2 linked regions of the Homo sapiens genome follow. The protein of the gene in region 1 interacts with the protein of each later gene in a pairwise test. Each region holds a gene or a part of one and is shown in the gene's direction. Other genes may lie near its edges.

Region 1 (3,500 bases):
CTTTGTTAAAGTGAATAGGAAACTAGCAACTGGAAAAATAGTCATAAAATAGCATTACAAGGGCTGAACAAATTGCCTTTCCTCTCTTTACTGTTCTTTGTTTTGACAAATCTATGTCCATTGTTCTGGCTGTGGGCAGAATTTCCATATTCCTCCTTTTGGCAAACTTACTTGGTCCCCTTCCACTTTATAAATGTTAACCAGAGTCCTTTCTGCAGTAGAGATTGTGAGCGTTAATACCATTTGTACATTCTAAATGAATTACTCTTTTCCATTGAAATTAAGTTGGAAAACGAATAAATGCAAATGAACCTTCTGTATTTTATTATCCCATATTGAAGCTACATTTTCAGACATGTTGAACTAGGTGGTTTATGCTGATTTTTGTTTGTAAACCTATTTCAAGTCAAACAAGTTTAATAATAACAACAGTACCTTGAATGAATATGTAAGAGCACTTTATAAGTTGTATTGTGATGCAGTAGTAACTGGCCCTTACAGAGAGCTGGATTTGAAATTCACCTCTGCCACTAGCCAGATGTGTGACCACTTTAGGGAAATTTGAATTTGATTTTTTTCCCCTAAAGTTTTGATCATTTGAGTCTATGAAACAAACTGCTAATAGATTAACAAGGGGGGAAAAGCTTACAAATGTATTAATGAGCATATGGGCATGGGAGTCATACAAAATATGAAAACTGAGAGAAAGGGCCAGATGCTTGATGCTTTTATACCATCTTGAGGTTACAGCAGAGTAGGGGCTTGGAACATGGTTATGGGAGGGAGAAAGAAAGAAGGGGCTGGGGCAAAGATGGTCTAGTTATGCAGATGAAACTTCATAGATAGCAGCTCCTAGAAAGAATAGGCATGAGCCTGTGTTAAGTTGCTCTGTCAGACCTTCGTAGGTGTCAGACTTTCAGTTAATAATTTCCTAGGTACAGATAAGGGGGTGCCTCCAAGAAAGCCTGGTTGTTTATTTCACCAGTGTAGATTTTCTCTACAGATGCAAGTCTCCTCCACAAAAGGCAGCTTTTCAGGGTTATTCCTGTGGGAATATATCAAAGAAGTACATTTTGGGGTGAAATATTTTCAGTTTCCTTTAGTCCCCCATTTAAAGCTTAATTTTTAAAACATTAAACATTTCCTTTATTTTTATTATTTATTTATTTATTTTTAGCGGTGAGATCTCACTCTGCCACCCAGGCTGCAGTGTAGTGGTGCAATCATGGCTCACTGCAGCCTCCACCTCCTGGGCTCAGCAATCCTCCTGCCTCAGCCTCTCACGTAGCTGGGACTATAAGTGCCTGCCACCATGCCTGGCTATTTTTCACTTATTTGTTTATTTTGAGATGGAGTCTCACTCTGTCACCTAGGCTGGAGGGCAGTGGCGTGATCTCAGCTCGCTGCAACCTCTGCCTCCCAGGTTCAAGTGACTGTCCCGCCTCAGCCACTCTAGTAGCTGGGATTACAGACATGCACCACCACACCTGGCTAGTTTTTGTATTTTTTGTAGAGGCAGGGTTTCGCCATTTTGCCCAGGCTGGTCTTGAACCCCTGAGCTCAGGTGATTTGCCTGCCTCGGCCTCCCAAAGTGCTGGAATTACAGGAGTGAGCCACTGCACCCAGCCAAGAAAGTGACAATTCTTTACATACCGCAAGGTCAGGATTTTGTAAGGGAACCATATACACAGGGTACCAGGCCAATCTTTTTCTAAGTCTGTTGGCTTTTTAATGTCAATTTCAGTCCCTCAAAACAGTTTGATCATGTATCTAAGTATGACATTCCAGTTAAAGCCTTGCTAAAATAACCACTGTCTCCAATTATGTCCTGTTCAGACTGTTACTGAACTTATGCATGTAACTATATTGCCATGAAATAGGAATACTCAAAACCCAGTTTGTGAATCCAAAGAGAAAAAGGTAAATTATTTTGCTCACAAAAGTATACTTGGCCAGGTGCAGTGGCTCATGCCTGTAATCCCAGGACTTTGGAAGGCCGATGCAGGAGGATGGCTTGAGACCAGCAGTTTGTGACTAGCCTGGGCAACATAGTGAGACCCCATCTCTACTACACAAAAGTCTTGTTCAAAAGAGAAAACCATATTTTACTTTTGAATCAGTATATCAATAATAAATTTAAATAAAACCTAATAAACAAGTCCATCCAATTTCAGTCAGCTTTGACCACACAAGATTTACATATCTTTTATAACCTCTTACGATTTTTCTTCTATTTCCAACTTTCTATATTCATTTAGTTTTATCTATATCTTTTTTTATTCTTTCAATTTGAAACAAGCTTCAAATAACTTCTAAACTAGACACAATTCGTTTTCCATTAACAAAAAAATCACACTTCATGCCATTCTTTTTTTTTTTTTTTTCTTTTTTTTTTTAAGATGGAGTCTCACTGTGTCACCCAGGCTGGCGTGCAGTGGCATGATCTTGGCTCATTGCAACCTCTGCCTCCCAGGTTCTCCTGCCTCAGCCTCCTGAGTAGCTGGGATTACAGGCGTGCACCACCACACCCGGCCTCATGCCATTCTTACAACCTTTCTCTCCAAGAACATATCTTGCTTTTTTGGTATATTCTGCCTGAAGAATTGTTTGTCTTATTTCTAGTAGTTTTATTTGTTTGTTTTTAGAGATATGATCTAAGAACAAACTACTCAGTGATGTGATCATAGCCTACTGCAACCTCAAATTCCTGGGCTCAAGCAATCCTCCTACCTCAACCTCCTGAGTAGCTGGAACAACAGGCATGCCCCACCACACCCTGCTAAAATTTTATTTTTTTATAGAGACAGGGTCTGCCTATGTTGCCCAGGCCAATCTTGAATTCCTAGGCTCAAGTGATCCTCCTGCCTTAGCCTCTCAAAGAGCTGGGATTACAGGCATGAGCACTCCCAAACTGCTGGGATTACAGGCATGAGCCACCACACCCAGCCAACTAACAATTTAAAACTAGCTTTATTGCTGGGCACAGTGGCTCACACCTATAATCCCAGCACTTTGGGAGGCCGAGGCAGGCGGATCACTTGAGCCCAGGAGTTGGAAACCAGCCTGGTCAACATGGCGAAACCTTGTCCCTACTGAAAATACTAAAAAATTAGCCGGGCATGGTGGCGCACATGGAGGCTGAGGTGGGAGAATCGCTTGAACCTAGGAGGCAGAGGTTGCAGTGAGCTGAGATCGCACCACTGCACTCCAGCCTGGGTGACAGATTGAGAGTCGTTCTCAAAAAAACAAAAACAAACAAAAAAACCTAGCTTGATTTACCAAAGATTACTAAAGTCATATGAACTTCGAAAAACATTTGGGATAGTTAATTTGTGAGTACTCATTTATTTAGAAGTCAGTTTGGTACTACAGACTATACAAACTCATGTGTAAACATATATATACATGTAGACACAACATATATCACATGCACACACCAGTATCCAAAAGCCAGAGAGATTAGGAAGTTTAATGCAGGAGAGCAGAACTTTAGACATGAG
Region 2 (3,965 bases), on another chromosome or scaffold:
GTTTGCCACCTGCCTGGTGGAGATGCTGTTCACATGGCCCCAGCCTCCCATGATGGGTCAGGTGCAGGGTGGTCAGATCCACGGGCGCAGAATCTCTGTTTTGAGCGGAGGCTGCTCTGCCCTGGCGCAGTGTCTAGCCCCGGCAACAGAGGACTGGGGAAGGACCTATGGAAGGCTGACTCAGGCCCTGACAGACGGAGGTCTCCAGGGAGGTACGACACCCATGCTGCCCTCAGGGCCAAGAGAGCAATGTCCCAGAGCCCATCAGGCTGGTGAGGGCACAGGGGGCAGGGGACAAATTGAGTAGCCCACTCCGCGCGGACTACCTTTCCAGGCACACACTCAGGCAGAGACCCAGACTCGGGACTTGCGGCTGCAAAACGGACGAGGCCCGGGCATACTTGGGTGCTGGGTCACCCTCCTAGGTGCTGGCTCCTGGCACCAGGGCAGCAAAGTGCTTCGGCCGGAGGGCTGCGGGTCCCTGAAGCCGGATGGGCAGCGGGGAGATGGCAGACCCTCCGTAGGATGGTGTGCGTGAGCTGCGTGAGCGCCTGGGGCATCTCCTCCACGGAATGGCACCCGCACCAGGTGCCCCTGGCCTCGCCTGGCCTTGCCAGCCAGAGGACCAGTCCTGGACGGGGAGGGGGAGGACAAGAGCAGGTGCACAGGCCCCAGAACCCGGCTCCCTGACCCTGGCCAGAACGCAGAGCTGCCGGACGCACCTCAGACCACTCCCTGGCCCTCTGGTGGGCACGCCGGGGTGCACACCCGTCGCCCCGCTGGCGCCTGCCTCCGGGGCACGTGCGGGAGGGGCAGAGGCCTGGACCAGGAACCGCTGTGGTGAGAGCCAAAGGCGCTGGGACCTGCGGCCCACAGACCTTTGGACACCCCGGTGGGGGTGGGGGTGGGCTGGCGCCTGTGTTCCCGGGACCCGCGGCGCGAGGGGAGTGGGGGTGGGGCTAGGGGATAGGAGCAGGTGACGTCACCCGGGGTCCTGGGGCGCTCGGGAAGGCGGCGAGAGCCAGGCCACGTGACCCGCCCGCGGCAACGGCCCTGCGCTCTCCCGGGCCGGCGACGCGGAGGGGTCCGCGCTGCACCGCCGCCGCACCCCGGCCGCGTGACCGCACTGCAGAGAGCGGCTGCGAGCAGGCGCCTGCGCACCGGCCCAAACGCCGAGCGAGCGAGGGAGAGGCACAGTCAGAGGGAACGCCCGCGCGGGGAGCCAGGGGCGCCCGACCCCGCCGCCGCCGCAGCGGCGCGCAGCCCCCGACGCGCCCTGTGGGGACCCGGACCAGGAGGGACCCTGCCCCGGGAAAAGGTATCAGACCCACCCGGGGAGGGGGACGCTGGGTCCCGGGAGACTCCGCCGCCCCTCGCCTGTCCGCCCTAACAGAACTGAAGCAGCCTGCGGGGCAGCGGTCCGGGGTCCGGGGTCCGGGGTCCGGGGTCCGGGGGCGGCGCGGGGATGAGGCCAAGACCCGCAGGGACCACCCCCCCGGGGGGGCGGGGCGGGACAGGGGCGGGGCCTGGCTGCAGAGGCGCGGCCAGGGGAGGAGGGCGGCTGGGGGTGGGAGTGGACGTGGACGTGGACGTGGGCGTGGGGAGGGGTGGGCATTAACCTCGCTCTCGCCCGCTCGCATTCACAGGCTGTGGAGACCTGGGCTCCGACCCCAGTTCATCCCCCCACACCCCCGCCGCCCCGTGCCACCCTGGTCCGCGCTGGGAACCCTATCCTGCCCCTCGTGTCAGCCCGGCACTGGCCAGAATCGCGGGCATGGCGGTGACCATGCTGCAGGACTGGTGCCGGTGGATGGGGGTCAACGCTCGCAGGGGCCTGCTCATCCTGGGCATCCCGGAGGACTGTGATGATGCCGAATTCCAAGAGTCCCTCGAGGCTGCCCTGAGGCCTATGGGACACTTTACAGTGCTAGGCAAAGCGTTTCGAGAGGAGGATAATGCCACCGCGGCCCTGGTCGAGCTCGACCGGGAAGTCAACTATGCTTTGGTCCCCAGGGAAATCCCCGGCACTGGGGGCCCGTGGAACGTGGTCTTTGTGCCCCGTTGCTCAGGCGAGGAGTTTCTCGGTCTCGGTCGCGTGTTCCACTTCCCGGAGCAAGAGGGGCAGATGGTGGAGAGCGTGGCCGGCGCCCTGGGTGTGGGGCTGCGCAGGGTGTGCTGGCTGCGATCCATCGGTCAGGCGGTCCAGCCCTGGGTGGAGGCCGTGAGGTGCCAGAGCCTGGGCGTGTTTTCCGGGAGGGACCAGCCAGCCCCAGGGGAGGAGTCCTTTGAGGTCTGGCTAGACCACACCACCGAAATGCTGCATGTGTGGCAGGGGGTCTCGGAAAGGGAGAGGAGGAGGAGGCTGCTGGAAGGCTTGCGTGGGACCGCCCTGCAGCTCGTGCACGCGCTCCTGGCGGAGAACCCCGCCAGGACGGCGCAGGACTGTCTGGCGGCCCTGGCCCAGGTGTTTGGAGACAACGAGTCCCAGGCGACCATCCGGGTGAAGTGTCTGACCGCTCAGCAGCAGTCAGGCGAGCGTCTCTCAGCTTTCGTGTTGCGGCTGGAAGTGCTGCTGCAGAAGGCCATGGAGAAGGAGGCCCTGGCCAGAGCATCCGCCGACCGCGTGCGCCTGAGGCAGATGCTCACCAGGGCCCACCTTACTGAGCCTCTGGATGAAGCACTGAGGAAGCTGAGAATGGCCGGGAGGTCTCCAAGTTTCTTGGAGATGCTGGGGCTCGTTCGGGAGTCTGAGGCATGGGAGGCCAGTCTAGCCAGGAGCGTGAGAGCCCAGACACAGGAAGGGGCCGGTGCCCGGGCTGGTGCCCAGGCTGTTGCCAGAGCCAGCACTAAAGTAGAGGCGGTCCCAGGAGGTCCTGGTCGGGAGCCAGAGGGCCTCCTCCAGGCAGGAGGCCAGGAGGCTGAGGAGCTCCTCCAGGAGGGGCTCAAGCCCGTCCTGGAGGAATGTGATAACTAGGTTGGGGCTGGGGAGGCAGCCCAGCGCGAGTCCTCCCCGGGCAAATAGGCTCCGAGGGCCCCGGGGCCTCCTCTCCTCCTCTCAGGCAGCAGGGCCCTGGAGACAGGCGGAGGCGGGGCCAGGGCCGGTCCCTCACCCCACATCGGGATCGGGGCCCCCCACTTCCCCCCAAGGGGCCCTGCCCACCACCACCTTCCCGGTGACCCAGATGACCACATTTAATACCAAATGGGGTGGGGGGAGGCGCCCCTCCAGTGCCAGGGGCACGTGCTGTGAGCTTCCTGGGAGCCCAGGTTGTGCTCACTGCTCTCCCGTATCGTGAGCACCACCTCTGCTTTCCCTGCGTAGATCTAGGCCAGGGGCTGCTTGTTTTTGTGGAGCCGTGTGTGTTCTTCTCTGAGCAGCTCCTCCCCAGAGGACCCCAGCGCAGTCCCGGGAGATGGCGGAAAGAAGGCACCAGGGCACAGTGGACACTCATCCCGTGACAGCGATGGTGACCATGACTGTGGGAGAAAGAACAGGACCCGGGATGGAGTGGGGCTGTCTGAGTTTCCCCAGTGAACTTTGTGCTTTGGCGTTCCACCCCTGTTGTTACTTGTTACTGAGTTTCCTAGACCTGGGGTGGGTGTTCCCCCAGGAGGAGGGGGGTCCCGACCTGTGTCCTGTGGTGGCCATTTGCAGCTTCTGTGTTGTGATTCCCTTCTCTTCAACGGTTTCAGTACATATCTCTCTTCAATAAATTTCATTCAGTGTTCCAGCCGGCCTCGCCTCTGCTGTGGGAAACTGCATGGGGTGCGGGGTGCGGGGTGCAGTGTTGGCTGGGGACAAGGTGAGGTGAGGTGCCACAGTGGCTGGGCTAACATCGGGGTGTGTGGGGTGCTTGGTCCCTGAGGGTCTGTGTGGTCCCCTGGGCTGCACGGGATGGCGTGGTAGTCTTGAGCAGGGGCTGATTGGGTTCCCAGGGCACGCTGATCACCTCCCAGGAGTAGGT

Evidence for each region. The genes of interacting proteins can lie anywhere in the genome.
Region 2: the proteins of RNF125 (region 1) and PNMA6A interact in a two-hybrid assay, tested with the Homo sapiens proteins (one large-scale study listed by BioGRID).

Annotation. Positions count from the first base shown.
Region 1 is NC_000018.10:32,021,825-32,025,324, forward strand, and holds part of RNF125 (E3 ubiquitin-protein ligase RNF125), read left to right. Parts: intron 1-3,500. UniProt on the Homo sapiens protein: E3 ubiquitin-protein ligase that mediates ubiquitination and subsequent proteasomal degradation of target proteins, such as RIGI, MAVS/IPS1, IFIH1/MDA5, JAK1 and p53/TP53.
Region 2 is NC_000023.11:153,071,289-153,075,253, forward strand, and holds PNMA6A (paraneoplastic antigen-like protein 6A), read left to right. Parts: upstream 1-1,165; 5' UTR 1,166-1,318; intron 1,319-1,646; 5' UTR 1,647-1,774; coding exon 1,775-2,974; 3' UTR 2,975-3,731; downstream 3,732-3,965.